Homo sapiens: one gene and its partner. The protein of the gene in region 2 interacts with the protein of the main gene of each other region in a pairwise test. Each region holds a gene or a part of one and is shown on either strand. Other genes may lie near its edges.

Evidence for each region. Proteins that work in one complex are often made in the same cells at the same time.
Region 1: the proteins of UQCRC1 (region 2) and C19orf25 interact in binary tests that used the Homo sapiens proteins (3 or more experiments, as listed by UniProt).

Annotation. Positions count from the first base shown.
Region 1 is NC_000019.10:1,472,686-1,476,344, forward strand, and holds the end of C19orf25 (UPF0449 protein C19orf25), read right to left. Parts: intron 2,574-3,659; coding exon 2,347-2,573; 3' UTR 516-2,346; downstream 1-515.
Region 2 is NC_000003.12:48,599,556-48,603,199, forward strand, and holds part of UQCRC1 (cytochrome b-c1 complex subunit 1, mitochondrial precursor), read right to left. Parts: intron 1,913-3,644; coding exon 1,797-1,912; intron 1,564-1,796; coding exon 1,420-1,563; intron 1,286-1,419; coding exon 1,125-1,285; intron 1,013-1,124; coding exon 927-1,012; intron 597-926; coding exon 508-596; intron 156-507; coding exon 80-155; intron 1-79. UniProt on the Homo sapiens protein: Component of the ubiquinol-cytochrome c oxidoreductase, a multisubunit transmembrane complex that is part of the mitochondrial electron transport chain which drives oxidative phosphorylation.

The DNA.
Region 1 (3,659 bases), on a different chromosome or scaffold from region 2:
TCCAGAAGGGGACAGGCAGTCCGCGGTCTCTGGACAATCAACTCAAGGTACGCCCACTGCAAGGCCTCCCTCCCACCGCGGCCCCTGCCTGGCCACCTGGCCTCTCTGCACCAGGGTGACAAGGGGTCCTCGTCTGCCCCCCAATGCTCCAGGGCCAGTCCTAAGGAGCTGAGGGTCTGAGGACGCAGGGAGGGTGGAGGTGTCCTGAGGCTGATGGACAGTGACCGCCACTGGCCCCCAACATGACCACACGTGGGTGCTGAACTCGGGGCGCCGTGCCCACCGGCATGGTCCTCCCGAGCTCCGACAGCATTACCTCACCCGGCCCCATCTGTTGCCCCGGTCCAGCCCTGATGGCGCGCGCCTGGTCTGTCTGATTCCCCTAGCCGCCACCCCACGTTTCTGTACCGGGTCTCTGCAGTGTTAAACGGACGTGTAAATAGTGGTAAATAGTGAAAGCCTGTCCTTCCCTAAATGTAAAGCCATCTGTCCGGCGTAAGGACGACACCGTCAGCTGTCCGACTCGCACACATTTAATAAACTGAGCTCTTGCATTGCCTGCCGCCATCACCTCTTCCTCAAAATGGGCTGTGGGCGGGTAGGTTCATCGCTGTCTATGTGCTGCCACAGAATTGCTGAGACCCCCCAGGTTAGATCCCTGGAAGCAGAGCCAGAAAGCAGAAACTGGGGGCACAGGGTTTGTGGGCACCCCACCCAGATGGGCCGGGGAGGCACTGGCTGAGGCCAGGAGTCTCCCCCTGGTCCCAAGGGAGGGCAGGCTCCAGGGGGTGCACAGCACCCCAGACAGGGGGTCCAACCTGGGCATTGGTACCTGGGCCAGTTATTATGGCAGGCCCCAGTGTGGGGCAGGAGGCACCCATGAGCCACTAGGAGCTGTGGCTGGTGCAACAGCTGGGATGGGGCAGCCACAGCAGCCACTACCGGGGAGAGTCAATGGTGGACAGGGGCTGCGGGAGCTGGGACGGCCCCACGTCAAAGCCACTTCAGGGAGCACAGCCCTGGCCCAGCTGGGGGGACAAGGAAAGCTATGACTGCAAGCAGCACAGAAGTGCAGGGTGGGAAGGGATGGCAGGAGCCGGCCCCCTCCCCACCTTCCACCCTGGGACACTGCCGGGACCTCCCTCGGCCAGGTGAGCAGCTTCAGAAGCATGACCAGTGAGAAGTCCCTAGGGCCCAGGCCGGGCTAGCCAAGTCCCAGTTTCTGGATGAGGCGCCTCCCAGGCTGTGTGTGGCAGGCCCCCTTTCTTCAGGGAATAAGAAACATCTTCCACATTCAAGAAACAAAGCTGGCTGTGGGTCTGGAGAGAGGGTGAGGCAGCCCCAGGTCTCTGGGTCAGGCGGACGGTCCCTGCATGCAGTGCCCGGCAGGACTGAGCAGGGTTCCCGGGGTCGCCGGTACCCATCCCTCCCCAGCTTCCGGGGCCCCGGGACGGAGCCGCTCACAGAGGCACCATTCAGACGGCCAGACACACACGAAAGCTTTATGTGCAGGGCCCAGCCTCTGGGCCGCCTTGCCCAGGTTTCCACTCAAGTTGCTATTTAGGATGAAAAGCCTTTGGCAAGACCCTCCGCCGCACTAACGCCCCCTCCCCCAGGGCCAGAACCCGCAGGGAAGCAGGCCCAGGACCTGCTGCAGCTGGCAGGGTGGCTATGAGACTCAGGACACCCTGGGCTCCTGGCCAGTGACTCACAGCGGTCCTCCAGCAAGGGCAGTGGCTGGGAGACACCCGTGCCGTGGAGCTAGGCCCAGCCTGGCTGGGTCTCAGGGCTGCTTCTCTTGGGTGACCCCAGCGGCCCAGGGTCGTTGTGAAGATCAACGTGGCTTGTGGGAGGAGCCCGGGGCCCAGAAGGAAGTGGGGTCAGGGGCTCAGGCTGGCCCTCGGGCTGCTCTGACATTGGGTGGGCACTCGCTGGATGGAATCACAGTTAACACCTCGATCCCAACACCTGGACTCAGAAGTGGACAGGCGAGTGCCTGCCCCGGGAGAGGAAGGAGGTGGCACCTGCTCCCAGGGGCCCCACTGCAGAGCACGGCCACTGTGAGCTGACGACAGAATCACAGTACAGCAATAATGTCCCTATCCTCTTCCAGAACCCCAGTGGGGCCCTCAGGTCACGCAGGACGGAGCCAGCTGGGTGGGTCCCACCAACTCGGCATGAATGAGACGACGGATGAACCGCAGCCCCAGCATCAGGAGGGGCGCCTGTGTCAACACCCACGTGGGCTGGGACCCCGTGAATGCCAGTCTGGGGCCGACGGACCCCCAGGGAAAGCCTGGGTGCAGGCCACCTTGTGCGCTGCCCAAGCCTGCAGGCCCCGAGAGGTCAGCCTGAGGAGGCAGCCTCGGCTGCCGGTAATGCTGCCTGCTTCATCTGGGCCACCTCCCGCTCCAGGTCCTCGCCGGCTCGCTGCAGGAGCTCACACCTCTGCCTCAGCACGTTGCCCGCCTGCTGCAGCCGCTGGTTGGCAGCCACGTAGGCCCGGCTTTGCTGGTAGAGCTGCTCTCCCGGGGCCTCCGCATCCTCCATCATCCTGAAGGGAACTGGGGGGTCTGAGACAGGACACAGCAGCATCACTGCCTGCTGACCACCCCATCCTCCTGGGCACCCCTCACTACTGCCCCCAAAGGGCAGGGTTCCCTGCAGTCCCCGAGTGAGCTTGCCAGCCGGGGTCTTCTTAACATGACGGATGCAGCCAGGTGTGGTGGCTCACGCCTGTAATCCAGCACTTTGGGAGGCCGAGGCGGGAGGAACACTTGAGCCCAAGAGTTAGAGACCAGCCTGGACAACATAGTGACACCCCCATCTCTACCAAAAAATACAAATACAAAAATTAGCTGGGCGTGGTAGCACGCATCTGTGGTCCCTACTTCTCTGGAGGCAGAGGCAGGAGGATCGCTTGAGACTGGGAGGCCGAGGCTGCAATAAGCTATGATCGTGCCACGGTACTCCAGCCTGGGTGACAGAATGAGACCCTGTCTCAAAAATAAATAAAAACAAAAATCAAGTAATGGAGGCTTCCTCGTCCATCAGCTGGGAGAGGCACAGTGGCTGGGTGGCAGGAGGGGCTTCCAGCTCTAGGCTACCCGCCTTAGCAAAGCGTGTGACCAGGGGGATCGGGTCACAGAAAGAGCTCAAGCCTCGCCAGCAGTGGCCCTCCTGGGGGCGGGGCTTCCATTCCTGCAAAAGCCGTGGCACCCACCGGGATGGACTCCACTGAGCTGGCCTGGCTCTCATTCCTGCTGTCTCTGGAAGCCAGAGACGCAACAAGCCCGCCACCGAAAACCTCTCCAGGGGCCGTGCAACCTCCTGGAGCACACACTTAGGGAGGCAGGGGTGGCGAAGGTGAGAGGTGGGCATTGACGTCCTGGTGACTCCCACATTCAGCAGAAACTACGTATGGCTCCCTGCTCCCCCACGTATGCAAGCCCAGTGCAGCAGGGCTGAAGCAGCACCGACTTCAGGGTCACTCAGAGAAGCGTCAGGGGCCCCTCGGCTCTGGCCTGCCCCTCGGCAGTGTGGTCTCCCACGGACGAAGGCTCCACGTGCCGCACGGGTCTGGGCTGATCAAATCACCTCTGTCATCACCTGCTTTAGCAACAGGGTGGGAAAGGCCGGGCAGTGCCTGGATGAAGGCA
Region 2 (3,644 bases):
GCGGGAGCAGAGGTGGAAGGGGAGGCCAAGAGAACGGCCTGAGGAAATAAACAAAGAGCAGACCCCCTAGGCCACTTACCATATCCAGCCACTGCTGGGCACTGGTCATAGATGTACTTGGAGCAGATCTCACGTACCACACTGGCATCCACCTCCTGCAGGGTGAGGCAGAGGGCATACTGGCTAACGGGCACCTGGCCACCACCTCAGCCAGTCAGCATCATCCAACTAGCAGAGATCTCCCACAGGCAGCATGCAGCTGTCCCCAGCCCAAAAGAGGAAAGGCAGAAGGGATCCCTGCTATAGACCTCCATGGGCCCCGCCCATCTCCACAGCCATCAGCACCTATGCCCTGCCCTCCCACTATGCTACCCCTGCAGGTGACAGCTGCCTAGGACACCAGGGATGCCTATAGGAGCAGGCTGCGCTATGCCAGGCCCCAACCCTACACCTCCCAGGTGTCTGCCAGGCCAAGACTCCAGAACCTCTCCCAGGGGTCCATGTTACCGCAATCCGGCTTTCCCATTCAGCCAGGGGGATGCGGCGGCCATAGGTCAGGAGGCTGCGTCCGATGTCCTCACACACAGGAGTAGTGCCTTTAAGGGTGAGAGAAGGCTCAGAGGTCCACCCAGCCCAATCCTGGACCCACAGGTACACAAACAATCTCCAGCCTCAGGTTGACAAGGACCTCCCTGACCTCATGCTGACTCAGATCACAGCCCTCTCTTCTATGGTCACCTATTATGGCAGTGATGGGCTGTGGACCTGTCTCACACCTGCCTGCATCTCCAAGGGTGGGGTGATGGGGCATGGCGTGGTCTTCAAAGTTTTCCTTTCTAACCTTGGTTAGTTAGGAGCAGTGGCCACCTTGGTGCTGTCGCTGGCAAGATGTACTCTACCCCTCCCCGCTGAGCTGTAGGACTCACCATCTAGATGAGATACCAGGGCATTTCTGAGGATGTTTTTGCCCCGGGCCACCTCACTCTCCGTGGCACTGGTACACAGGCGCATCCTAAAGTGGGGGGGTGGGTGGTATTCATTCTGAGCCAGTGTGTCATCTCTCAGCCTCCCACTGTGCTGGTTAAAGCCGCCATCCCACCTAGGAATACCAGGCTGCCACTTACCACTGCCCTTGCAGGACGAACATCATGTCATCGATTTTCATTCGGTCACAGACAAAGTGTGCACCCAGCAAGCCCGTCTCTGCATAGCAGATGCTGAAGGTCTGGAAACTCTGGCATAGCTTGTTGGCCACAGCACCTGAAGCCAGTGGGCTGGACAGGTGCTGCCAGGGGGATAGGTGGTCAGCACCCACCCTCTTGTCTTCAACGCACACTGTGACCCCCACGCACAGGAGCACACAGCCCCAGCACCCTCTCTTCCCTGAAGGCGAGGTCCCATGCTCGCGCTGGCACTCACCACGCCACCACCATAAGTGCAGTCATAGTGGCCGATGATGGCATTGGCCACTTGCAAGGCCACATTGTCCGGGCTGGCCCAGCCAGGACCCTCTACTGCAATGGCCACGTGGGCAAAAGGTAGAGCATCATCACGGTGGCGGATCTGAAACAGTACATGACAAGGCTGAGGAACAGCCAGACTGCCAGGGGAACAGAAAAGGTGGCAGGTGTGGGTAGAGGGTGTATGTGTGTGAACATGTGTGCCTGTGATGCAGCAGCCACAGAACCCCTTCCCAACTGCTGAGGTATCTCTGGAGTCACCAGGATAACCATGCACATGGGGGTCCTCCCACAGGCCCCCAGCTGAGCACTACTCCTGCCCAAAAGGCAGCATACCTCACTGCCAGTGAAGCGGCATGGAGTAAGAGTGGGCACAGCGTCCTCTGCATATGTCCATGGGATGCCACCGAGGTGCTTCTGGGCGAGGTCTAACAGTTGCTGGTGCTCCACTCCTGCTGAGACAGACAGTGGCATTACTGACCAGCCAGGGCCCAAGGCACAGGGTGGGGCGATTCACAGACAGGCAGAGGACCCCCATGTCCTGTCTTAGTGGGAGAAACCAGGAGTATGTGACATTAGAACAGGGTGAGGAAAGAAGGTCCTCCTCAGACAGACCCTGCCTTGTGGACAGGACAGGCACCTCAGGGCCAAATAGCTCCCATGGCCTCAGTCCCAGGAGAGCAAAAGCGTTCAGAGTTTCAAAATGGGCTGCCATGTGATCCAAGTGTGGGTTCTCACTTGAGAAGATGCATTCCACCTACATCAAGGACAAGACTGGTACTCCTGGGCACAAAGCCACCTGGCCTGCCTTTTCCCTCTAGCTCTCCCTCAAGTATTTCTGGCTGCTGGCCCTGCAGGGGGTGGCAAGTGAGGGGGCAGAAAGAGGAGCTATTACAGGGCTGTGATTAGCTCTTGGGTCCCCTGAGAGCTGGGGACATTTGCAAATAATGTTACAAACGTATACCCTAGGACTCCTTGGATCTTGCCTCCTCACCTCCACAAGAGGAGGGCTCTGTGGTGCCACCAGTTGCATTGGCCTTTTTTTTTTTTTTTGAGACGGAGTCTCGCTCTGTTGCCCAGGCTGGAGCACAGTGGTGCAATCTCAGCTAACTGCAAGCTCCACCTCCCGGGTCCACGCCATTCTCCTGCCTCAGCCTCCCGAGTAGCTGGGACTATAGGCGCCCGCCACCACGCCTGGCTAATTTTTTTGTATTTTCAGTAGAGACGGGGTTTCACTGTGTTAGCCAGGATGGTCTCGAGCTCCTGATCTTGTGATCCGCCCGCCTCGGCCTCCCAAAGTGCTGGGATTACAGGCGTGAGCCACCGCGCCCGGCCTGCGTTGGCCTTTCATTCCTTCCTTCCATGAGCTCAAGCCCTGCTAGTCTGACACACACGTCAGATTGCTCTTGCCCCCAGGTTCCCCAGCTCCAAAGCCCCTGGTCATGCTCTTCCTATTGGTCTTTTCTGCACACTCAGCCGCCAAGGTCATAAGCTGGGAAGCATGTTTGTTTTTTTTTTTTTTTTTGAGATGGAGTTTCACTCTGTTGTGCAGGCCGGAGTGCAGTGGTACAATCTCAGCTCGCTGCAACCTCCGTCCCCCGGGTTCAAGGGATTCTCCTGCCTCAGCCTTCCAAGTAGCTGGGATTATAGGCAACTGCCACCAAGCCTGGCTAATTTTTGTATTTTTACCAGAGACGGGGTTTTGTCACGTTGGCTGGGCTGGTCTCGAACTCCTTACCTCAGGTGATTCACCCACCTCGGCCTTCCAAAGTGCTAGGATTACAGGCGTGAGCCACCACGACCAGCCAAGATGGGAAGCACCTTGACCTCAGTTCCTTACCCATGTCCAGACCCCAACCAGGTTCCATCTATAAAACCACCTGGAGTCCATCTACTGCTCCCCCTTGCTCCTGCCATCTCCTGCCCAGTCCCTGCCACAGCCCCTCTCTAGCCAGCCTACCTGCACTGTGACCCCACACAGCAGCAGAGCAAACCTTAGACCATGACACTGCTCTTCCCCTGCGCTCAGCTCCCCACACCCCACCTAAATAACACTCACCACCTTTCAGGCTTCTGTTCAAACTACAGGTGCTTTAAAAAGCCCCTCCCCCAAACTCCAACTCTGAGTCCCCAGTGAAATCTTCCCCACCCTTCTGTGCCTTCCTTTCAAGGCACTTCTTGGTT